Linked DNA regions of Homo sapiens. The protein of the gene in region 7 purifies or fractionates together with the protein of the main gene of each other region. This does not show direct contact. Each region holds a gene or a part of one and is shown on either strand. Other genes may lie near its edges.

The links.
Region 1: the proteins of PCDHA9 (region 7) and CD276 purify together in Homo sapiens (affinity purification with mass spectrometry; one large-scale study listed by BioGRID and IntAct). This does not show direct contact.
Region 2: the proteins of PCDHA9 (region 7) and ZNF622 purify together in Homo sapiens (affinity purification with mass spectrometry; one large-scale study listed by BioGRID and IntAct). This does not show direct contact.
Region 3: the proteins of PCDHA9 (region 7) and ECE1 purify together in Homo sapiens (affinity purification with mass spectrometry; one large-scale study listed by BioGRID and IntAct). This does not show direct contact.
Region 4: the proteins of PCDHA9 (region 7) and LONP2 purify together in Homo sapiens (affinity purification with mass spectrometry; 2 studies listed by BioGRID and IntAct, with this or other methods). This does not show direct contact.
Region 5: the proteins of PCDHA9 (region 7) and DDR1 purify together in Homo sapiens (affinity purification with mass spectrometry; one large-scale study listed by BioGRID and IntAct). This does not show direct contact.
Region 6: the proteins of PCDHA9 (region 7) and HBD purify together in Homo sapiens (affinity purification with mass spectrometry; one large-scale study listed by BioGRID and IntAct). This does not show direct contact.

Annotation. Positions count from the first base shown.
Region 1 is NC_000015.10:73,708,383-73,711,698, forward strand, and holds part of CD276 (CD276 antigen isoform a precursor), read left to right. Parts: coding exon 1-91; intron 92-1,265; coding exon 1,266-1,307; intron 1,308-2,752; coding exon 2,753-2,788; intron 2,789-3,316. UniProt on the Homo sapiens protein: May participate in the regulation of T-cell-mediated immune response. May play a protective role in tumor cells by inhibiting natural-killer mediated cell lysis as well as a role of marker for detection of neuroblastoma cells.
Region 2 is NC_000005.10:16,459,301-16,462,800, forward strand, and holds part of ZNF622 (cytoplasmic 60S subunit biogenesis factor ZNF622), read right to left. Parts: intron 1-3,500. UniProt on the Homo sapiens protein: Pre-60S-associated cytoplasmic factor involved in the cytoplasmic maturation of the 60S subunit.
Region 3 is NC_000001.11:21,234,964-21,238,463, forward strand, and holds part of ECE1 (endothelin-converting enzyme 1), read right to left. Parts: intron 3,282-3,500; coding exon 3,171-3,281; intron 1,882-3,170; coding exon 1,783-1,881; intron 965-1,782; coding exon 887-964; intron 1-886. UniProt on the Homo sapiens protein: Converts big endothelin-1 to endothelin-1.
Region 4 is NC_000016.10:48,271,800-48,275,299, forward strand, and holds part of LONP2 (lon protease homolog 2, peroxisomal), read left to right. Parts: intron 1-3,500. UniProt on the Homo sapiens protein: ATP-dependent serine protease that mediates the selective degradation of misfolded and unassembled polypeptides in the peroxisomal matrix.
Region 5 is NC_000006.12:30,897,588-30,900,656, reverse strand, and holds the end of DDR1 (epithelial discoidin domain-containing receptor 1 isoform 2 precursor), read right to left. Parts: coding exon 3,060-3,069; intron 2,585-3,059; coding exon 2,350-2,584; intron 1,770-2,349; coding exon 1,620-1,769; intron 1,502-1,619; coding exon 1,361-1,501; 3' UTR 501-1,360; downstream 1-500. UniProt on the Homo sapiens protein: Tyrosine kinase that functions as a cell surface receptor for fibrillar collagen and regulates cell attachment to the extracellular matrix, remodeling of the extracellular matrix, cell migration, differentiation, survival and cell proliferation.
Region 6 is NC_000011.10:5,232,338-5,235,673, forward strand, and holds HBD (hemoglobin subunit delta), read right to left. Parts: upstream 2,147-3,336; 5' UTR 2,097-2,146; coding exon 2,005-2,096; intron 1,877-2,004; coding exon 1,654-1,876; intron 756-1,653; coding exon 627-755; 3' UTR 501-626; downstream 1-500. UniProt on the Homo sapiens protein: Involved in oxygen transport from the lung to the various peripheral tissues.
Region 7 is NC_000005.10:140,847,157-140,851,181, reverse strand, and holds the start of PCDHA9 (protocadherin alpha-9 isoform 1 precursor), read right to left. Parts: upstream 2,801-4,025; 5' UTR 2,687-2,800; coding exon 293-2,686; coding exon of another isoform or gene 158-292; exon of another isoform or gene 1-157. UniProt on the Homo sapiens protein: Potential calcium-dependent cell-adhesion protein. May be involved in the establishment and maintenance of specific neuronal connections in the brain.

The DNA.
Region 1 (3,316 bases), on a different chromosome or scaffold from region 7:
GGGCTGTCTGTCTGTCTCATTGCACTGCTGGTGGCCCTGGCTTTCGTGTGCTGGAGAAAGATCAAACAGAGCTGTGAGGAGGAGAATGCAGGTGAGTGTGTGTGTATGTGTGTGCGTGCGCATGCACACTTATGTGTCTTGGGGTATGTTGCTGTCTTTGATGTCAATAGAGTGTCACTTTCTAGTGACAGAACGAGTGTGTGTGTGCAGATGGGGCTGGATTTGTCTGTGTGTGACCTTGAGTCTACGTCTTGTGTGTGTGAACAAGCGTGAGCCTGTCTGTCCATGTGCAGATACCACAGGATGAATGTGGATGAGTGTGACTGGAAGGTGGTGGGAGTGTAAGGCCAAGTGCTACAAAGGGATGAGTGTGTGCCAACAAGTGTGCCTGTGAAAGTGTAAGTCAGTCACGTGTGTGTGAGAGAGCAGGCCAGAGCATGGAAGCTGTGCGGCACAAATGTAGGCATGCCAGGGGCGTGCATGGCACTGGGGGTGATCGTGCCTGCCTTGGAGTGAGTTTGAAGCAGCTGCCATTTGCGGGGCTGAGGGTCAGCCCGAGCTGGCATTGGTGACTGGTAAGTGGGTGAGAGGACATTGGTGGGTGGTGAGTTGACCCTGGTGGGTAAACAGATGCATGAGAGTAGATGGGTAGTCAGAGGCTGGGGATGGCTGGAGGTTGGGAAGGAGAGGGAAGAAGAGTGGTCAGTTGGCAGATAGGTGAGTACTTGTGAGGTAGACAGGTGGAAGGATGAGCAGGTAGACGGCTGGTTGGTTACATCTGTTGGAGGTTGATGGTTGGCAGGGCTACTGAGCGAGCGGATGGGTGAGGTGATGGGTGGGTGGGCTGGTGGAGGGTAGGTGGATGGTCTTTGGCTGGGTGTGTGGCGGGGGCTCCAGGTTGAGTGGATGGTCTTTGGCTGGGTGAGTGGTGGGCTCCAGGCTGGGTGGATGGTCCTTGACTGGGTAAGTGGTGCACTCCAGGCTGGGTGGATGGTCTTTGGCTGGGTGAGTGGTGGGGGCGCCAGGCTGGGTAGTTTTTGGCTGGGTGAGTGGTGGGCTCCAGGCTGGGAGCCCCTTCATGTTGTCACAGGCTCGGCTCTGCTGTGCTCTGCTCTCGGGCTCTAACCCGTGTCTAGCATTTGGTCCGCAGGTCAGGCCCACTCAGGCCCTGTTCACCAGCTTCCTGCACTCTCAGGTGGGAAAGTGCTGGCATGAAAATGGGCTTGCAAAAGATTTTTGTTTATTCTGAGTTCTTGCCTTTGCAGGAGCTGAGGACCAGGATGGGGAGGGAGAAGGCTCCAAGACAGGTGAGTCTGAACTTGGAGCTGGCCCTCTTGGCTGGGAGAGGGACATATGGGAAAGGAGAGAGGACTCTAGGATCTGGAGGGGCCAGATTTGCTGTAAGGTTTGAATGAAATGTGTTCTGTGGACTCAGACCTCCCCACCCCGGTGAGTCTGCTCTTTGCCCAGAGTTAGGCAGGAAGTGGATCACCCAGTTCCCTCCCAGGTGTGGCTTCATTTCTCCTGCCAACCTTTACCCATCTGCCAGGGCCGATTCCACCTGATTGGCCCCACACCGTGGAGTCTGGTGGCTTCCTAGGGGTGGGAGCAGGGGCTCCGGAGATAGGGAGTCTGGGTTTAAGTTCCTGCTCCATCTCAGGTAAACAGAGTGGCCTTGAGCAAGATGCTTTGCCTCTCTGGCTTCGGTTTCCTCTTATGTAAAATGAGGATAATCACAGATTCATAGGTTGTTTGAATTATTAATTGAGATAATGTATATAAAGGACCTAGTATCATATCTAGTGCCAAGTGCTTAATACTCTGGAGTCCTATTACTATTAGGCAAACAGCTTAAGACAATACTGTTCTAGTTACAGACTGTGTAGCTTTGGGCAAGGTGCCTTGCTCCTCTGGGCATCAGTTTCCCATCTGTAAAATGTCATCCTGACCCTGCCCTGATGGCACCAGAGGGCTGTTTTGAAGCTCTTTCAGGTGACTGGAGAGGGAGGTACTTGCAAAGGACATAGGAGCATGGCACAGTAAGCTGGGGGCCCAGCTTGGGTGGGTGCCAAGGCACTGGTGCCCATGGCCGACTCCCAGGGGATCCTGGGCTGGGAGAGGCAGGTTTCCGCTGAGCCATTTGGGATGGTTCCAGTTAATGCCAGTTCCCTCCCCACCCCCGCAGAAGGAAGGGCAGGAGATTGACACTTGGGGACTGCTATAAATTATGCCAATTAATTCTTTGCCTGTTGGTGCCCAGCGTGGCAGGCGTAGAGACAGCTCTGGGATCAGACCTCATTCTTCATGCTCAGAGGCAGATGTAGTTGGCAGAAGGGAGGGAGTGAGGAGAAGAGTGTGGGTGATGGAGTTGGTCAGTCTCATTCCACATGGTCCCAGGCCCACCTGCAAATCTGCCAGCCTCCTTTAGCTTCTCACATCACCCTGTGTGTACATTGGGCTCAGGGCACTTCCGCATCTCCAGCTGGAGGTGGAGGGCTCGAGGGTTGTCCCATTCTATAGATGCAGAAAACTAAGGCCCAGAGAGGAGAATGACAAGCCACAGAGTGGAACTGGGACCTGGGACTGGGGCTTGGGACAGCAACCTAGGGCCCCTTCCCTTGTGCTATGAAGTGGTCCCACTCTGCTGACTTGTCCCGCCCCTTCCAGCCCTCACTCCTCCCTCTGCCTGACTCCCTACCCCACCACTTCCCATGGTTCCTCCCTCACCGTGTGCGCCTTCCTTTTTTTACAGCCCTGCAGCCTCTGAAACACTCTGACAGCAAAGAAGGTAAAGACACCTGGGCTTGAGGTTGTGTCTGTGTATGCACACATCTGTGTGTGAGAGGCTGAGAGGGTGGGTAGGCATCATCCTTTCACTAGTGACCTGAGGCCCCCTCTGCAGAAGAGCAGCCTCAACTTCCCCCTGGTGAGATGGCAGAGGGCTGAGTAACCAAGGTCCCAGCTGCTCTGATGGGACCCAAATACGACAGAGGCTTAAGCAGGACAGGAGTTTATTCCTCCTTCCTGTGATAGTGTGAGCATAGGTAATCGTAAAACCACTGATGACCTGGAGCCAGGTTCCACTTACCTGGATTCTGCCCTCTTCAACTTCAAGCTTTCACTCCTAGGTCTAAGAGGCTGTTTGTGCTCCCACGCCCCCTCCAGAGCCAAGAGGGAGAGAAAGGAAGGATATGTTTCCTTCTAGAGCTTGAGTGGAAGTAGCCTGCATCACTTCCGCTTACATTCCATTGGTCAGAACCCAGGCATATGAGCCCTAACTCAGGGGAGGCTAGAAAAGTGTTCAGCTGGGTAGCCA
Region 2 (3,500 bases), about 120 Mb from region 7:
ATGCTTGATCAGATACCTCACAAAAAGATATCCAAATGGCCAATGAATATGCAAAAAGCCTCTTGATTGCAGTAATCATCATCAGGGAGATGCAAATTAAAGCCACTACACACCCACCAAAGTTGCTAAGATGAAAAACTCTCCCTCACTACAAGTGGGAGTATAGAAAACCACTTTGGAAACCAATTTGACAGTATTTTCTAAAATGGAACATATGTATATCCTCTGGCCCAACTCCTACATATACACACAACAGATAACCTATAAACATTTGCCAAAGACACATTAGAATGATGTGGCAGCATTGTTTGTAATAGCCCCAAATTAGAAACCACTCAAATGTGTATCAACAGTAGACTAGATGTTGTGGAGCACTGAACAGAACACTCTGTAACAGTAAGAACTCTCCACAGCTATATAAAATAGTATGAATGGGTCTCCCAAACATAAAGTTGAGCAAAAGAAGCCACACCCAAGAGTACATTCTTTGTGATTCCATTTATATAAAGTATAAAAACAGGCAAAACCAATCTATGCAGCTATAAGTCAGAATAGTAGTTACTCTTGGAGAAAGGAGGGGTAGTTTCTGGAAGGACACACAAGGGAAATGTCAGGGTATTATTAACATGCTGTTTCTTGATCTAGGTGCTAGTTATATTTAAAATTTCACTACACTGAATCATGATATCACAAGTACGGTCATCCCTTGGTATCCATGGGGGATTGCTTCCAGGACCTCCCTAGGATACTAAAATTTGCAGATGTTCCAGTCCCTGATATAAAATGGTATAACATTTGCATATAACCTAAATCATTGCATACTTTAAATCATCTCTATATTACTTATTAATACCTAATACATTGTAAATGCTATGTAAATAGTTGTTACACAGTACTAAACGTTTAGGGAATAATGACAAGAAAAATAAGTCTGTGCATGTTCAGTATGGACAAAATTTTTTTCGAATACTTTAGTTTGGATGCACAGATGGAGAATCTATGACTACAGAGGGCCAGCTGTATACATATATGCACTTTTCTGTAAGTTTATTCTTCAATAAAAAGTTTCAGGTCCAAAATAAGTAAACAAGTTACCTTGTGAAGGGGAGTGAAATTTAGGTAATTTGTCATTTTTTAGCTGAGTGAATCCACATAAAATGCTTATTAGAACAGTGTCTGGCAGGTAAGCACTCCATAAACACTAGCTTTGTATGTAAAGGCTTTCTATTTTCCAAGTTTTCTTTATTAAGCATTATCAACTTTTTTTTTTTTCCTTTTTTTCCCCTAGAGACAGGGTCTCACTGTGTCACCTAGGCTGGCCTGAAACTCCTGGCCTCTGGTGATCCTCTTACCTCAGCCTCCTAAGCAGCTGGTACTACAGGCTCATGCCACCACACTTGGCTGACTTTTATTTTTTTAAGACAAACAAATCATTTAATATTCATTTTTAGGAAGAAAAGTTCATATAATTTCTCATTTCTAGGCACCAACAGAATAAAACTGTAAATGGAATGAAAAATACATCATCTGGACTAAGGGAGAACCGTTTCCATCAGTTACATATTTTAATTCAAACTAACGGTTTAAGCAACACCCAGTAAAGAACAAGAGTAACAACAACAAAAGGCTAGGGCTTGAAGCTTAGATTCTAGAAGGAGGAGACAATAAATAATATACAATACACACAATGGCAGTAGGGGATATAAGGAAAAATAAAACAGGATAAAAAGGATTGGGTAGGTGTTATTTTATGGAAGGTGGTCAAAAAAGGCCACACTGAGAAGGTGAAATTTATGTCAAGGCCTGCAAGAAGTGAGGGACAAGTCAAGTGAATATCTAAGCGAATACTATAAACAAATACAGCAGCAAATGCAAAGGTCTTGAGAAACACACTTGATGCATTAGAGGAATAGTTAGGAATCCAGAGAGCAACTAATACAAAACCACAGAACCACAGATGCTCCACACTATGTGCAGGGCCTTGCAGGCCATTATACTTTGGCTTTTACTTTGAGTAAGATAGGTAGTCTTTGAAAGAATCTGAGCAGAGTTTGACCTCACTTAATGTTTTAAAAGGATCCCCCTAGTTACAGTTTTGAGAATAGAACATAGTGGGTAGTAAGGATGTAAATATGGAGACCAGGCAGCAGGAGGCTACTGTAGGAAGTCAGGCGAAAGATGATGGTGCCCTGGACCTGGGTAGTAGCCATAGAAGTAGTGAGAAGCAGTCAGCCTCTGAAGATAGATAGTGCAAAAGCAGATAAAGCAGAATTTGGTGATCGATTCTAATGTAAGCATGAAAGAAAATAGAAGAATAAAGGAAGACTGCATGGCATTTGGCTTAAGTAACTAGAAGGACAGAGATGCCATTTACTTACAGAGAGCAGACTAGGATGCATAGCAGGAGTTGATTTTGGACAGGTTAAGTTAATGATTCCTTTTGGACACAAGTAGAAATATCAAGGAGGCAGCTGGATATCTTCAGTTTACAGCTGAGGGGAAGGCTATACTAGAGATATAAATGTGGGGGTCACGGGCCTACAGAAGATATTGAAATCTATGAGACTGGGTAGGATTCTGAATATAACCACAGGATGAGAGACTGAGTGCTGGGCATTCCAAGCCTACTGCTGATGGCAGCTGCTTAACTATCCATGGTATTTGCTTTGACCACTCTGATTACAACATCAGTCAAAAGGTCATAAACACTGCTGTCTAAAAGGAAACTTGAGAGGGATAAATACTGAAAGAGGATGCTTCCCACCACCAGCAGACATTCATTGTCTTCTCTACTGCCACAGCCTCTAATCCTCCCCTCTACCTCCACCCAGTCATGTCCACCAACTGCAAGTCTCCAGCTGCAAAATGAGAAATCAGGGAGAAAATGCAAAAGGAAGACTTAAAAGACTGAGACTTTTCTGAACATGGTATCACTTGGTCTATGCATGCCTGGCATGGTAATTATACACATCTGCTTATCTCCTGTGCTAGCTCACAGGAATTTTGACAACTAGTTGTTCACAAGTACTTAACATACATTTGCTAAATGACATACAAAAAAATTCAAGATTCTAGTTAGGGCCGGGCATGGTATCTCACACCTGTAATCCCAGCACTTTGGGAGACTGAGGTGGGTGGATCACTTGGGTCTAGGAGTTCAAGACCAGCCTGGGTAACATGGCGAAACCCCATCTCTACAAAAAGTACAAAAATTAGCAGGGCATATTGGTGCACACTAGCTGCTGGGGAGGCTGTGGTGGGAGGATCATCTGAGCTCAGGGAAGCTGAGGCTGCAGTAGGCCATGATTGTGCCACTGTCCTCCAGCCTGGGTGACAGCAAAAATCTTTCTCAGAGAAAAAAAAAGATTCTAGTTAGGGGTGAACCACCAATGGGGTAATCTCACCATCAGATGCCTGGTTTGGGCCTGGTTTAGCAACTGTCTCAACTCCTTCAGGAGACAGCTGGTGATGCAAGGACTCTCCAGGAACCCAATATGTGA
Region 3 (3,500 bases), on a different chromosome or scaffold from region 7:
AATGAGTCTTTATAGTCTTAGGTTCTAAATATAACCATGACGAGAGGTTATTAGATTTTTAAATGCCTGAATTCAGGCTGGGCATGGTGGCTCATGAATATGAGCCAGCCTGGGAGGCGGAGGTTGCAGTGAGCTGAGATAGCACCACTACACTCCAGTCTGGGCAACAGAATGAGACCCTGTCTCAAAAAAAATTTTTTCTTAAATACCTGAATTCAAGTATTTCAATCACAAGAAGATATAAAACTTCATAATTTGAGGCAGAAGCACAATCCACCTAACTGAGTGATTTGCCAAAAGTTCTAATAAGCAGGGATGTATCAACCACCTCCATTGCCCAAACCAAGCTTAAAAATGCACCTGGATTTAAGCTGCTTCTTTCCCATTAGCATTTCAAAGTCAAAATCAGAGGTCCGGGTTTCTGGGGAGGTGGAGGAGGGCCGCAGGGACAGGAGGTAACTGGAAGCACGACCAGGGAGGGAGGAGGTGGTGTGGGGGTTTTCCCACTTCATACCCCACCCCTGATGTCTGAGGGCCACCAATTCTCTCTGCACCTTCTGGGGTCTGTTTCCTCCATTATTTCCCACATATTAAATGGAGCTGACCACTTCCAGGGGGCACACAGCACGGGTTCTGTACTGACTGGTGGGCACTGCTGATGGATGGTGGCTATGGGGAGGCAGGGCCTCCAGCTGACCCAGGAGCCAAATTAAGAAGAAGAAGAGGCTTCCTCATGCCTGACCCATACCCAAGCCCCACACCACATCATCCCTGTGTGTTTTGACAACCATGCTGCCTCTAGCACCCCATCTGGACCCAGCCCTGCCTCGGCCCTTTTCTAAGGGGGCATTTAGGAACGCAAGGGGGCAGGGCAGCAGCTACTCACGTCATTAAACACTTTGTCCAGCTCCTTGGGATCCATGATGAAGTTGGGGTATCCTATCATGTTGTAGATGGCATCGGCCTGGACAGGACAGACAGAGGAAGTGAGTGCCCGGCAACATCGACCAGGCCAGCCTGAGCAACTTGGGTGCTGGGCTCATAGTCTGGGCCAAGGGGAACCAGAGCCAGGCCCTGCCTGCCTTGGGCTTTCATGTCTTTTTCTGGAAAGGTTTCCCCCTTGCAAAACTTCTACTTATCCCTTAGGTCTCTGTTTAAATGTCACTTTCCCAAGGGAAGTCTTCCCTGACTCCCATCCCACTGGAGGGTGCCAGAGCCTTCCCGACCCACGGGACGTGCTGCGTTTTCCTGCACCTTTTCCCCGTACACTCAGCGAGGTTTGTCTTCTACAGACATCCAAGCAATCATGTGCTTGAGGCCTACCCCGAATCCTGCTAGGCCTAGACCGCTCACCCGCTGAAGGCGAGACAGCATCCAGGCTGTGCTGCCGGACAGAACTGGCCTCACCGGGCGCGGTGGCTTATGCCTATAATGCCAGCGCTTTGGCAGGCCAAGGCGGGTCGATCACCTGAGGTCGGGAGTTTGAGACCAACCTGACCCACATGGAGAAACCCCATCTCTACTAAAAATACAAAATTAACCGAGCGTGGTGGCGCACGCCTGTAATCCCAGCTGCTCGGGAGGCTGAGGTGGGAGAATCGCTTGAACCCGGGAGGCGGAGGTTGCGGTGAGCCAAGATCGCACCATAGCACTCCAGCCTGGGTAACAAGAACGAAACTCTGCCTCAAAAAACAAACAAAAAAACCGGCCTCTCCTTCCCCCACCCTCCTCTATCTGTGCTGGACGCCGCAGCACCCCCTCCAAGTGCCTGGCCAGCCTCACCTTTTCCTTGGCTGATTTTCGGGTTTCCTCATCCATCCACTTCAGGGTGCTCAGGCTTTCCTCAAATGCCTTCTTAATCTCCAGGATGATCTCGGTGGCCTGAGGAGATACACATCACAGCAGTAAGGTCTGCGCACTGGTCTCAGGTAAATGCAACAGGCACCCCGTGCAGAACAATGATGGCCAGAGATTAAACTCAATTTTCCAAGCGTCAGGCTGGGTGAGAAGGGGAGCCACAGCTGTGCTTCCAAACCACGCTCCTAACGTGAACACCCTGCAAGACAGGACTGGCCTTCCACACACAGGGCTCCATGCTCCAATAAGCTTAGGATGAGCTTCGGGAAAGTTGGAAAAGTCTCTGCTGTGGTACTTTTCAGAGCCTTTAATATGGTAATAATAGGCACCGTGATTCTTCCAGAGAGGGGAGAAGACACAGCCTCTCCCAGCCTTATTGCCTTATTGGACCACAGCATTCCTTTTTGATGGAGCGGGCTTTAAGATCTAGAGTACTCATGTTCCGAGGAGCAGCTTCGGAAATACCATGCTCAGGCTGGATATAGACAGGTGTTCTTGAGGGAGACAATGTCATGAGCAGACAAGCTCGAAGATGGAAAGTTGAAGGTTCTAGAGAAGGGGAAGGCAGAGCTGTGCGGCAACAAGAGCAGAGGGGCCAGCAGACCCCAACTCAGACCCTGCCCAGCTGCTCACAGGCCAGTCACTGTAATGGATTTGAATTGCGGTTGGCTCACCTCCGGCTGCAGATGACAGCTACATAATGAATACTATTTGTCATCAAGATTGTAACAATAAAATGACCACTCCCATTAGCTGAACCCTTATTGTATGCCGGTGCCCAGTGTGTGGCATCTCATTTAATCTCTCTCTGTGGGAGGAATGCCCCCGTCTCCACATTGCAGATGATGTAAGAACTGTCCCAGGCCACCCGACCAGCGGTGAGGCCAGGATCTGAGCTTAGGCCGGGCTGTCTCCAAGGCGCTCTGCCATGGCACTCCTCTGCCTGTCTAGAACAAACCTGTCACCCACAAAATAAGAAAAATGTCACCCTCTGGGCCAGAGCTGTTCTGCCAACATTCTCTCTGGGTCGTTCACAGCCCTTGGAGGTGGGGATGGCTGTCACAGCCTTGCAGGCTGCTGGGAGGATCACATGAGCTCGTGCAGATAAGGGCCTGGCACTGAAGAGCTGCCCTCGTGAGACTCCCATTACCCAGGGCTCGAGGAAGTGAAGCCTCTGCATTGAGGCTGTGGCCCTAAGGTCCCCTGCCCAGGAGCAGGAAAGGCCCAGGGTGGGCTGGAGTGTGAACTGGCAGGTCTGTGCAGGCCACAACAAGTGTGACCTCACAGCCTGTGTCCACGGGGAAGGCACTTACTATGCTCTTGCTGTCCTCGGCGAAGGTTGCTTTGACAAACATGGGGCCCAACGCAAAGCCCAGGTTGTTTTCTGTGTCACTCACGCAAAACTTCCAGCGAGGAAGACAGGTCTGGAAAACACAAGTCAGGGGGCTCGCTGGGCCCCAGCCCTTTGTTTCCCAACCCCTTTCTTGCTGGGAGGTAGCACCATGTGGGGCCCATGCTTTGTTCTGGAAGTTCAGGGAGAGCTTTCCGACCCAGTAAAGTTATTTTAGTCACCGGACCAAGAGGCCACTGATACCCTCACTCCCACCCCCTGCCATTTCCTGAATGCCAGGCTCTGTGCTGGG
Region 4 (3,500 bases), on a different chromosome or scaffold from region 7:
AGAATTGATTTGGGTGATTTCTTCTGGCAATTTCAAAAGATATTTTTGTTGCCTAGACTTCTTATTCTTGCATGTACCACTAGAGGCTATAGTTTGCTTTCGTAAAGGAATTGGCATTTCTCTTGGACCAAACTCAAAGAAGCTGCGTCTAGGGCCTAAATCTTCTAATTTTAGCTACAGAGTAAGTATTTGATGGCATTTAGAGAGTGAGTTCGTGGAATTAATGCTATGTGAAATTGACATCATAAGCACGTGACATGTAGGTAATTTGTTCTTATTTCTTTTCACATTGGTATTGATTATTTGATAAGGCTTGGAAAGCACTTATTCAATACCTGACACACAGTGAGCATTCACTAAAAATTAGCTTTAACCATTATTTAAATTCTATTAATAAATTCTCAGGAGGACAAATTTAGATTTACAAGCTTCAGTATGAGTTTTTATAAATTTCAATCTGATTTTTTAATTGCCTTCTAAAATATTTATCCTATTCTCAGCATTATTACTTAATTTATACGGCAGAATTATGGGAAAATGCATTTTTCTGTTGCCTACTAATGGACAGTGTATAGTGTCATGGTTCTCACCACTTACAAACATCACTGGATTAAAATAAATCTCTATTTTAAATCCTTACTGACATATAAAATTTGTTCTTTTTTTCAAGTGAATATGCTTTTGTGTATGTGACTGTATTAAGAAAATTGAGTCTGAAGAAAATAAGAATTGACTTTATGGGTCTTTTGTAAAAGGAGGTTGTGTTACAATCACCATTGCCTAAAATATTTGTAAATATAACCTTTTTAGAAACGTATATATGGAGGCTGTGATTGTTGCCGAGTAAAAAGTATAAGGATTTGTTTTGTGAATCATTCTATTCAGCCTGATTTTAGATACACCTTGCTGGTAAGTGTTACTTAGCCATCAGTGTACCAGATGTTTGATTAACTACTATAGCAACCTGCCCTTGTGCTGTTGGGGACATATTACCCATCTACCCCGTGAATTATTAAAGCCTGGTGAAAAATTTTATTTCAAACCCTGTTTGGAAGCACGTGGAGAGTAGTGGGGTTCAGTTGTTGAGGAAAGGGTGAGGGCAGAGCATGCACTTAGGTCAGTTATGAATTGAAGGTGAATAGGAGGAGGAGAGAAAGAACAACCGACAATTCCAGCACAACCATGGGTGTGCCTGGGGGAACATGTGGTTCCATGTGACAGTTGAGGCATTTGGGAGACAACCCAGGTCTTGACGTTTGAGTACCGGTCACATGCTCACAGTTAGAGTTCATGAAAAGTTTTGTTTTTCCTCAGCCTTTGAGTAGGCACCACTGTTCCGCAGCCTTAGAATAGCCAAGGAAAAAGAAAGCCAGGGAAAAAGAAAGCTGCTTTGTTATTGTCCTTGCTTATCCTCTCGATTTTGCCACTCACTCTCCCTGTTTTCCCATGTGTGGAACACTTTCCTTTTGCTAAAAGTACCTGCGTATGAGAAGAAGGATGCCGATAAGTTGGGGATTGATTTTAAAAACAAGCAAAGATATGTTTTTTATGGTTAAATGATAATGAGGTGGGAGATGGGGAAGCAAAAGAGAGGCTTGCCTTAATATTTAATCTTAAACTTGGAAAATAATAGTGATCTGACTAAACATTGCCTCATTTTTGTCTGTATTGTTTTGAGTAGCTTAAAGGAAGAATAATGTTTATGCTACGTATTAACTCATTCAGTTTTTCAGTCTTTTCGATATTTCTCATTTGGATTTATCTCCATTGTGATTTTTCTGTCCACTTTGTAAGCCACAAAATACTCATTCCCTTCTATCAGTTTTAACAACTTAAATTTTTATATTTAAGTATTACATTTAAATAATTTAAGTCAATTCACACAAATATAAGGTAACTAACTTCTTTTAAGATGAAGTTTTATGAAATAATGTTTGCATAATTGTTTTTCATTTGTTCTTTGGTAAAAAGAAATAATATATTATTGTTATGATATATCTTAAATCACTGTGGATATTAACTCCTAGAAATACTTTACCAGCTGTTTACTTAGATAATAAAATTATATTATTGCAAGAAATCCTTGTCTCAACTTTCAAACAAGATGAGAAGAAAAATGAACTTGTGATTTCCACATTGATACATTTTCATATGCAACCTGAAATGGTAAAGTTATAAATAAACTATTTCATTATTAGTTTCTACAAGGGAAAAATAACTGAAGCAGCAAGCTTCTAATGTATTTTTTTAGCATAGTGTACCAGATATATTATGGTTTGCCCACTATCCTTTCAACTTACATTTGCATGTAGCTCTTCTTTGCCTCTCCAAAACTTAGGTTTATTTTAAGGCCTCAACCCAAGGCTTCCTCCATTAATGTAAGTGCAGTCAGTTATGATTTCACTCTTCTCTAAACTGACCACCTATTGTGCTCCTTTATCGAATACGGGCCTCTGGCATTTCTACCATACAACTGTGGAGATGAAACATAAATACGTTTATAAAAAGTACAAGCTTTCTCAGGCAGGGGATTTATCGTCTATCTCCTTTATGTACCCCATGATGCTTATTTAACATGGTGCTAAATGTGGTGAGCGCTCTCTGGGTGTTTTGTGAATTCATGTAAGATTAAAACATAATATTTTGGAAGTTATGCAACCCTTTAGACGAGTACACCCATACAAATTAGTCTATAAAAAGATTTAGGAATGACTACCAGAAGAATAATTGCATTTGTTTAGACATGCTATTATACATTAAAATCCCAGTTTCTTAAAGACTGTTTTTCTTTTTGAGATCATTAGGATCTTTTTTAAACTGATTCCTTTTTCCAGTTTGAGATACACACACACACCCACACACCCACCCACACCCACACCCACACATCCACACACCCTTGGTAGAAAATGTGAAAAATAAGGGGAAAAAATCCTCATGTTTTTCTACCGTACAAAGATAATCACTGTTAACATTTGTTTTGTTCTGCCAGACTTATCATTGGATTTTAAGTAACAGAATTGTAATCCTGTCATTTTCACTTAACATTGTAACACTTAAACTCTTTTCTATTCCAAATTCTTTGTAAATTTTATTTTAACAGTTTGCATTATAGCCTGCGGGAGCCGAGCCCTTTAATTGAATAGGTAGGAAGAGTGGATGGTGAAATGCCTATATTTTTCTCTCTTGTCTGCTATAAAAGACATTTGCAAAAGTTGCTTCCATGAGGCAGAAATTGAAATGGGACTCAAATTCAGGTGTACTGAATTCTGCTCTTGTGCTTTTTCCAGGAAACCAGAAGTAAACTTTAAGTAGCTGTTGCTAATAATGATGAGCATCACTGGAAAGCTCACTGTGTGCCAGGGACCGTGCTGTGTGCTTTGCCTGTGTTCTCTCATGATCCTTATATTAATATAACCCACCAGGTTGACACTATTTTCCCCATCTTATAGGTGAGGAAACTGAGGCTTAGGTCAAGTAATTTGCCCAAAATAGTATTCAGA
Region 5 (3,069 bases), on a different chromosome or scaffold from region 7:
AATTTTTGTATCTTTAGTAGAGATGGGGTTTTGCTATGTTGGCCAGGTTGGTCTCGAACTCCTGGCCTCAAGTGATCTACCCACCTCAGCCTCCCAAAGTGCTGGGATTACAGGGGTGAGCCACTATGCCTGGTCCATTTTATAGGTTTTAAAACCTAATTCTGAGGAGGACTCAGTAGACCTCTACAGACTGCCAAAGGCGTTTATGGCACAAAAAAGGTTCAGCACCCCTGGCCTGACTGCATTCCTTCCAGGCCTCCACCAGAGCACCCCTCTGAGTTGAGAAGGTTCATGCACTCAGACATTCATGCATCTCCTGAGGTCCCACAGGCAAAGGCCTGGATTATCCAGAAACAGAACACAATGCTGGGCAAAACAGGTGATGGGAAATGGAATGAGGAGGCAGGAAAAAAGGAAGATGGGAAGTGGGTTGGGAAGTGGGTTCAGAGGGAGGTGCAGGAGGCAGAGTTACCAAATTCCCAAGGAACCCACTCACACAGTTGTGGAAAACTCAACCTTTATTATTACCTGCCTAGTGCAGGGGATTAAAATTGCCTCAAGCTAGGTCCATATATTAGTGTAAAAATCTGTGTCTCTCCCCCCAAAAATGTACAAACCCCAAGTGATTATAGAAAAATCAATGTGGCAGCTACACTAGAGATGTCCAACCCCAAGGCTATGGGCCGTTGCTCCCTCTTTCCCCCCAATCCCAATATTTACTCCACAGAAACGTATAGGCTTAGAGAAGTTCTAGCTACAAGACTGCAAGTGGGAAGTGGGGGTGACTGAGGGCTGGGGCGGGGCTACCCCCAGGTCCAGTGTTTCAGGTGATGGAGGAGGAAGAAGCCCAAGCTGAGGACAAGTACAGGAGCAGGCACAAGGAAACATTTTCCTCTCCTTCTTGTCCTCCTCACCCCCAGATTCTCAGCCAGTGGGGTCCAGTGTGTGACAGGGAGAGAGAAGCTGGGGGCGCAGCCACCTCTCCAGGAATCAGTGTTGTCCAGTGGGGCCCAGGTGCTCCAATGGGCCATGTCCAGTGTCTATCCTATATTTCTCCCCACCCTTCCCCAAGGGATGGCTAGAGGAGGGTGGAGAGGATCCCATCCACAGGACCAGCTGGGTGGGCGACAGGGGCTTCTAGGAAGGAAGAACAGGAAGGGGACATGAGAGTGTGTCCAGGAAGGGGAGAAGGGGCATCAGCTCCCTGGGTGGGCCCAGCCCACCTGCAGTCTCACTGCCTCTATTAGAGGTGATGGGCTGTCGGGAGGGGAAGGGCAGAGGTGCCATTGTGTCCTCTTGTTTTAGTGTCACTGGCTTCCCCTGGATCGCTCCCTGAGGGAGGGGCAGCTGGATGTGTGATTCACACCGTGTTGAGTGCATCCTCTGCCAGGAACCGATGCAGCTGGGAAAAGGGTGGTCGCTGCTCAGACTCCCGGCTCCAGCACCGAAGCATCAGCTCATATAGGCCCTGCGGGCAGGCAGGCGGCCGGGACAGGTACACCTGCATTGTGGCAGTGTGGATGAGAGTCAGGGAACAAATATTCTTTAGTCTCCAAGATGACAACTCTGCCCCTTCTGTCCCCCGCCTCGGACCCATCTTCCCTCTCCTCCACTCTGACCTGCCGGCCCTGGTCCCGGAAGAACTCCCCCGCGTTCTCGATGACCTGCTCGTCGGTGAGCTGCCCAAAGGGCTGGGCCCTACAGAGCATCAGCACCTCCCACAGGGTCACACCAAAGGCCCACACGTCACTCGCAGTCGTGAACTTCCCCTGGGATGCAGAGAAGGCAGCAAAAACAGACAGGGACATCAGGCAACGTAGACCCTCCTCCCTTCCTATTGGAAGCCCCAGATCCACTCTGGGCTCCACTCAGGCCTGATCCCTCCTGACGCCAGGCTCTCCACTCTCCTCCGCTGGCCACCTTTTCCAACTCCTCTCCCTTGGGCTCTGCCTTTCCTCTCCATGCTCTGGTCCTCTCTCCAGGGCCCTGGCCCACCTCTTCCTTCTGCTCCTCCTTCCTCTCCATCCACCCCCACTTTCTGGTCCTGACCTTCGGTCTCCCTACCCAACCCCTTCTATCTCCAGCTTCCTCGCCCAACCTCATCTCTTGAGCTCTCTGCCACCCTGTCTCCATCCCCAGTACCCACTCTTGGCTCCTGGATTCTTGCCCATCACACTGCAGCTCCTGCTTTCCCCAGTCCCTTGGGCTAGGAGAACCTCATATTATAGATGAGATTCTGTAAAATGCAACCCAGAGAAAGTGTGTGACTGATGGAGACCAGGGCTGTGAGTGGCGGCCAGTGTTCTCCCACCTGCCCTGCTCCAACCTGGCTGTCCTCGGGCTGCTCACCATGAGGATGCACTCCCAGGCCATCCAGCGGATGGGCAGCACTGCCCGGCCCTGCACACGGTAATAGTCCCCAGCATAGAGGTTCCGGCTCATGCCAAAGTCTGCGATTTTGATGGTGAAATTTTCCCCAACTAGGCAGTTCCGCGTGGCCAGGTCCCGATGTACAAAGTTGAGTGTGGCCAGATAGCGCATGCCGGAGGCGATCTGGGCTGCCACATGCAGCAGCATTGGGTAGCTGAGAAGGGAACCGACAGAAGGTCACTGGGGGCAGCTTCGCAGATTCCCATCCAGGAGAGGAGAGAGAGCCCACTCCCCGGGCCCGGTCACTCTGGCTCCCCATGTGGAGGTGGAATGCCCACGTGAGGCCAAGGGTCACTTCCCTCTCAATCTCCCAGGCCTGGCCAACACTAGGGGGCTCTTCTTTTATTGTGCTCCCCAATCTGGACTCAGAGGGGAGTGAGGGTGAGAGAAAGCAGAAGGGACGTCATGGCAGGGCCCAAGTCCCTTCACCACTCTTGCATAGTCACCTCCAGCCTTTCTGTCCATGTTCCTGGGTTAACTTGTCACACATTCCTTATCCCAGGCCCTCCTGGAACCTCTCTCCCTTCCCACCCCCACGCTCCCCTCTTTTCCTCCAGGCTGAAGCGAGGGGAGAGGAGGAGATCCCCTGGGGGAATTCTGAGCAAGGCCCAGCCTGGGTAAGCAGGTACCTGATGGTGG
Region 6 (3,336 bases), on a different chromosome or scaffold from region 7:
ATCTTGACTGAAATATGGGAAGATAAGAGGAAATTCTTTACAGAGATGTTCTGGGGCAAGTAAGAGGAGGAAGCTATTTCTTGGAGCAGGAACACTTGATGGGGTATAGTATTATGGGCTACAATGTGCAGGCAAAGGAAGGAGGAAGAAAGACAACATAACATTGTCTTGAGTAATCATTATGCCTTTAATTGAGCACATTATTTTCTCAGTAATTGTTGGAGTTTAATCGTAGCATTACCCTTGAGGCTATGTCTTAGGGTTGAGGTCTTCCCTAGAACCTCTGCAGTGCCAGTATTATCTTTGTATCAAGAGTTCTTGATAATTTCTGCTCTTTGGAGGTAGAAGTGTCACCCATTAATGCCTTGTACGGTTCCCTTGCTTTTCTCTTTTCCCATGTACTCTTTGTAAAATAAACAAGTGCTCCCTATCTGTAGAGCCTCAGGAACCTTCTTACACACCTGGACAAAAAAATGAAATAAGTGAAATTAATCAGGAAGTTGAGCTGAACATTCTTTATTAGGCAGAAGCCATACCCTTGAAGTAGGCATTGTGTTCCCAAGTTCAGAAAATAGAATCTAGGGAAATAGGGTCTTCTTATGGTTATCAGGAAACAGTCCAGGATCTCAATGGTACTTGTGAGCCAGGGCATTAGCCACACCAGCCACCACCTTCTGATAGGCAGCCTGCATTTGTGGGGTGAATTCCTTGCCAAAGTTGCGGGCCAGCACACACACCAGCACATTGCCCAAGAGCTGCGGAGAAGAGGTAGGCAGATACATGCATATGGTTAACAGAGAAATAAAGACTGGCTTCTGAGAAACTGAGCCAACACCCATTTTTTTCTGCCCAAATCTTAGACAAAACTGATCCCCAGGTTATTCCCATCAGCATAAATAAGTACATATATGAATGCATACATATAACATATATCTATACACACACATCCTCTATGTACTTAACTAGCATGTAGTCTATATATGTACATATATGCTATATATGCTGTATAATACTATATACAAATTAATTCCAAATTAGTTTTAATTTTGTATGTGTATATAGCATATACAAATTAATTACTATAAACAGATTAATAGATACAAATTAATTGATTAATCAGTGTGATGATGGGCTGTCTCCTAGCAACGACTTCTGCCCCACCTCCAGTGTAACTGCCTAGTCTTTCATAATCAAATATTCACTTTCCTTTCCATTCCATTTACTACAGAATTTATAAAATTCCAATTATTCCTTATTGTAAAATGATTTATAGCCTCTAAAACAGTATTCTATGCCTCTCATCTTTGAGTTGGAGCCTCTCCCATACCCATGTGGAGAGACAAAAGGATTATTCTAAGTGCAGAATTAGCAGGTGAGAGCTGGTATGCATAATTTGAGTTGTTGTTAGAGAAGGAAAAATGAAGGGAGGGGGTTGGGAGAGAAAGACAGGATATTAAATAATTTAAAATAGCAAGATTGTGAGGAAGGAAAAAATGCAGAATATTTAAATAAAAAATTAACAAAATTTTAGAAGCATTAAATGATAAAATATAGTAAAATGACAAAAATGTGGGAGAAGAGCAGGTAGGTAAAAGAACCAAAATGTAAGATTAGAAAGTAAAAAGAGAAAAGTGAAGCATCTCCTGGACTCACCCTGAAGTTCTCAGGATCCACGTGCAGCTTGTCACAGTGCAGCTCACTCAGCTGAGAAAAAGTGCCCTTGAGGTTGTCCAGGTGAGCCAGGCCATCACTAAAGGCACCTAGCACCTTCTTGCCATGAGCCTTCACCTTAGGGTTGCCCATAACAGCATCAGGAGAGGACAGATCCCCAAAGGACTCAAAGAACCTCTGGGTCCAAGGGTAGACCACCAGTAATCTGAGGGTAGGAAAACAGCCCAAGGGACAGAGAGTCAGTGCCTATCAGAAACCCAAGAGTCTTCTCTGTCTACACATGCCCAGTTTCCATTTGCCTCCTTGAGCCTCTCTTATAACCTTGATACCAACCTGCCCAGGGCCTCACCACCAACTGCATCCACGTTCACTTTGCCCCACAGGGCATTGACAGCAGTCTTCTCCTCAGGAGTCAGATGCACCATGGTGTCTGTTTGAGGTTGCTAGTGAACACTGTTATGTCAGAAGAAAGTGTAAGCAACAGTCGACTCTGCCCTGCCTTTTATGCTGGTCCTGTCCTCCCTGCTCCAGTGAGCAGGTTGGTTTAAGATAAGCAGGGTTTCATTAGTTTGTGAGAATGAAAAATGAACCTTCATTCCACTATTCCCTTAACTTGCCCTGAGATTGGCTGTTCTGTCATGTGTGTCTTGACTCAGAAACCCTGTTCTCCTCTACATATCTCCCCACCGCATCTCTTTCAGCAGTTGTTTCTAAAAATATCCTCCTAGTTTCATTTTTGCAGAAGTGTTTTAGGCTAATATAGTGGAATGTATCTTAGAGTTTAACTTATTTGTTTCTGTCACTTTATACTAAGAAAACTTATCTAAAAGCAGATGTTTTAACAAGTTGACTCAATATAAAGTTCTTCTTTGCCTCTAGAGATTTTTGTCTCCAAGGGAATTTTGAGAGGTTGGAATGGACAAATCTATTGCTGCAGTTTAAACTTGCTTGCTTCCTCCTTCTTTTGGTAAATTCTTCCTATAATAAAACTCTAATTTTTTATTATATTGAAATAAATATCCATTAAAAGAATATTTAAAAAATGAATAGTGTTTATTTACCAGTTATTGAAATAGGTTCTGGAAACATGAATTTTAAGGTTAACATTTTAATGACAGATAAAATCAAATATTATATACAAATATTTTGAATGTTTAAAATTATGGTATGACTAAAGAAAGAATGCAAAGTGAAAAGTAGATTTACCATATTCAGCCAGATTAAATTTAACGAAGTTCCTGGGAATATGCTAGTACAGAACATTTTTACAGATGTGTTCTTAAAAAAAAATGTGGAATTAGACCCAGGAATGAAGATCCCAGTAGTTTTTCACTCTTTTCTGAATTCAAATAATGCCACAATGGCAGACAAATACACACCCATGAGCATATCCAAAAGGAAGGATTGAAGGAAAGAGGAGGAAGAAATGGAGAAAGGAAGGAAGGAAGAGGGGAAGAGAGAGGATGGAAGGGATGGAGGAGAAGAAGGAAAAATAAATAATGGAGAGGAGAGGAGAAAAAAGGAGGGGAGAGGAGAGGAGAAGGGATAGGGAAGAGAAAGAGAAAGGGAAGGGAAGAGAGGAAAGAAGAGAAGAGGAGAGAAAAGAAACGAAGAGAGGGGAAGGGAAGGAAAAAAAAGAGGAAAAAAGAGACAAGAGAAGAGATA
Region 7 (4,025 bases):
TTTTCAAGTGTTATGGCAGCATAGCATCAGAAATTCAATGTCACTTTAATCACAAATTTAAATAAAATTGATTCAGCACCCAAAAAATATCTATTTAATATACAGTTTATAATTCTCACTAGAAGTCAAGACAAAGTCGGCTCCAATGTTAAGGGGTTTACTTTATCAGAAAAAAAATCTGCTGGATTTCTAGAAAAATGAATAAAACTATTTGAACGGCCCCTGGGAGTAATCGATAATATCTTTCAAGAAAAAAAATTATATAAATAAATAAAATGCTAGAAAAACCCACCTTCCCAGTTGAATCTGAGGAAGCAGAGGGTTCTCCCGTTCGCTCTGTAGATCCAGCACAAGGAGAAAGGCCCGGGCTGAAGGCCATGAGGTCGGTCTTCTGCTTACCCTCGCCAGAGCACACCCTCTGCCTCCTCTGCTGCGAGTACGACCAACTCCCCACCGCGCTAGAACACACCAGCGTCGGCTTGCCAGGCGCGCACTCGCCCTCGGTGGGCATCGCCGAGCACCGCAGCACAGTGTACAGCAGCAGCGTGAGAACCAACAGGCTAGACACCGCGCAGATGGCGATGATCAGGTACACGTTGACATCCACCAGCGTCACCTCGGGGCCCGTGGCACCCACTGACGCCCGCGACGATGACTTTGGCGCCTGGCCGCTCTCCACCAGCGACACCAGCACAGTGGCCGTGGCCGTCAGCGCTGGCTCCCCGTGGTCTTTCACCAGCACCAGTAGGCGCTGGCGCGGTGCGTCCGTTTCGTCCAGGGCACGCGTTGTGCTGATCTCGCCCGTGTACAGCCCCACGCGGAACGGGATGCTCGCGCTGGCCGTTTCTGGCTGCAGCTCGTATGAAAGCCACGCGTTGTAGCCCGAGTCGGCGTCCACTGCGCGCACCTTCCCCACCACTACGCCGGCGCCCACCGACCGCAGCACCATCTCGCTCACTGCGCCGTCAGTGCCCCTCATCCGAGGTGTCAGCAGCGCCGGCGCATTGTCGTTCTCGTCCAGCACGAACACCTGCAGCGTCACGTTGCTGCCCAGAGGCGGCACGCCCGCGTCGCGCGCGCTCACCTGGAACTGTAGCAGCTCCAGCTCCTCGTGGTCCAACGGCTGCAGCGCGTACACCTTGCCGCTCTCCGCGTGCACTGACACGTAGCTCGACAGCGAGCGCTCGCCCAACCGCCGCTCCACCAGCGAGTAGGACACCAGGGCGTTCTCCTGCGCGTCAGCGTCCCGCGCAGACACCGTGAAGATGTGGCAGCCCGGCGGGTTGTTCTCCTTCACGAACACCGTGTACTCGGACTGCGCGAACGCTGGTGCGTTGTCGTTCACGTCGGCCACCTCCACAGACACCCTGGCCGTGGCCCACAGTGAAGGCGAGCCCCCGTCCCGCGCGGTAACCACCAGCTCGTAGGCGGACACACTCTCGCGGTCCAGAGCTCTGTCCAGCACCAACGAGTAGTAATTCTTGTAGGTGGACACCAGCTTGAAGGGGACGTGGGGCGTCAGGGAGCAGGTAACCTGCCCGTTGGCATCTGCGTCTAGGTCGATCACACTAATCAGGGCAATAACTGTCCCCAGTTGTGCGTCCTCTTTTACAGGAACCGAGAGCGTTTTGATAGTCAACTGTGGAGCATTGTCATTTACATCCACAACTTCCACAAGAAGTGTACAATGACCAGCCAGGGGTGGGAAGCCTTTATCGACAGCCTCGACTGGGATCTTGTGTGCTCTACTTTCTTCAAAATCCATATGTCCTATCACTGTGATTGCCCCACTTAAGGGGTCCATGTGGAACTTGGATTTTATATCTGGAGAAACATCACTGGAGAAGGAGTAAATAATATCCCCATTCAAGCCTTCGTCTAAATCTGAGGCATTGGGGTGAATCACCAGCGTTCCGATAGAAACGTTTTCTGGTAATTTCACCGTATACAGGGTTCTGTCGAACACTGGGGCATTGTCATTGTTGTCCAGTACCGTGATGAGTAATTGAACGGTGCCAGTCAGCTCGGGTTTGCCTCCATCGGTGGCCGTGAGCAATAAATGAAGCTCCGGAGTTTCTTCTCTGTCTAAAAGTTTCCGTAATACAAGTCCAAGAGGTTTTACCTGCTGGTTGCTGGTTGGCACGTCCAGGAAGAAATACTCATTGGGGCTCAGTCTGTAAGTGAGCAGGGCGTTCTCCCCGATATCTGCATCGGACGCGCCCTCTAGTGGAAACCGAGAGTCAAGCGGCCTGGATTCCGCGATGAACAGATTCTTTTGTGTCGCTGGGAACACTGGAGGGTTGTCGTTAATGTCCTTCACCTCCACGTCCACATGGAAAACCTGCAGCGGCCTGTCTACGATCACCTCCAGGTGGATGCTGCACTCCGCGCTCCGCCCGCACAGCTCCTCGCGGTCGATCCGAGAATTCACAAACAAAATGCCATTCTGCAGATTTACCTCCAGAAGGTCCCCGCGGCCTTTGGAATCCAACTGGAACAGGCGCGGCACCAGCTCCGCCAGCTCCAGCCCCAGGTCCTGCGCGATGCGGCCCACGAAGGTGCCGTGTTCGGCTTCCTCCGGGACGGAGTAGTGGAGCTGGCCGCTCCCCACCACCCACATTGCGAGGATCAGAAGCGAGAGCAGTAGAGGCTGACCCTCTGGATCTCCTCGACTTGAGTATAACATTTCAAATACTCAGTCTTCTTCTAATTAGTGAAAATTGCCTCCAAATTAGAAGAAATCATCTGATTTCGTCAGTCCCATTCTGCTGTGTTCGCCATCGTTCAGCACAGAGAGAGTGAAAAAGAATTGAGCCTCTTTCCCATGGGAAAAGGGCTGTATTTGTCTGGATTCAGAGAGAACATCGCGGCAAAGAGTGACATCACGTGGCCCAAAGTGTAAGTACATATTTCATGAATAAAAATTTCACAGTTATTCTGCAAAACTTATTTCATTTTCTTAATTTTTTCTTAAGTAATGATTGTTGAAACAGAAGATCCCGTTTCTCTTGCTGGAGCCTTCTTAGCAGACTGACTGCCTCTAAAAGTTTTGTATGACCTTGATTGTGGTTTTCTTATCCCTGAGAAAACTCTCCACTTAAGTTTTAAATAACGACAGAAATGAAGTAACAATTAAAATGATTCCATTGAGCAATCACGAATTTTAAATTACAAAATTCTTTTGTTCTGGAATTCAGAATCTCCCATATGGCTCGAAATAGGATTCTAGTGTAAGAGAAATCCAGGAGTTGCAATCTCTAGTGAATATAGGAGCCCAGAAATCTACTGATGAAAAAGAAACTTAGTCATGTCTGGTAAAAGGAATCAACAAAAAGTAGCAACCAACTGAGGTAGTTTTCTTGAGTAATTCTATGAATTGAAAAGGTATAAAATATTGCAAGAAAAGCGAGAATTGACTTTAAGGTCTTGTGTTGCGTGGGGAGAAAATATATTTTTCTCTTTTGTAGCATTTATACAATCTGTTTCCAGAAATGTGTTGTTTTGATTCTTTCCAAGCTTTATAATCTATGAATAATCTCTTCTTTGTAGTCTCCAATATAGTTTGTGTAATGTTATTACAATATGTTTTAATTTCATTATTGCTCATCCTTAGTACTCGGGGCAATTTCTGTTTTTAAAGCTATGCTTGAGATTCTTTTCCTGACTAAGTTCTACAAAGTTTTGTTGTGAGTTTTACTATCTTATTCCAACGTCCAAGTCGATTAATTAAATCTAGATTTTAGTGTATCTCAAGTCTAAAGGCAAAACCGTGAGTGTTTATTGTGCCATTAATGTTTTTGCATATTTATCTTTTATTTCGTATTTCTACTGATAACAGCCTAAGAGGTGCATTTAACAATTGCTTCTGTCCTTGATTACTGCAGGAGCTTCTGAGTTTGTCTTCCCGTTCAACCTTCTTTCAAAAGTCGTGATTTATTTTGCTCAAGGTAGTTAAATAGCTCCCAATTAATTCTAAAGAGTGGCCAAATTCCTTAATCACTCATGGCCCTTTAGTTTATTACTCA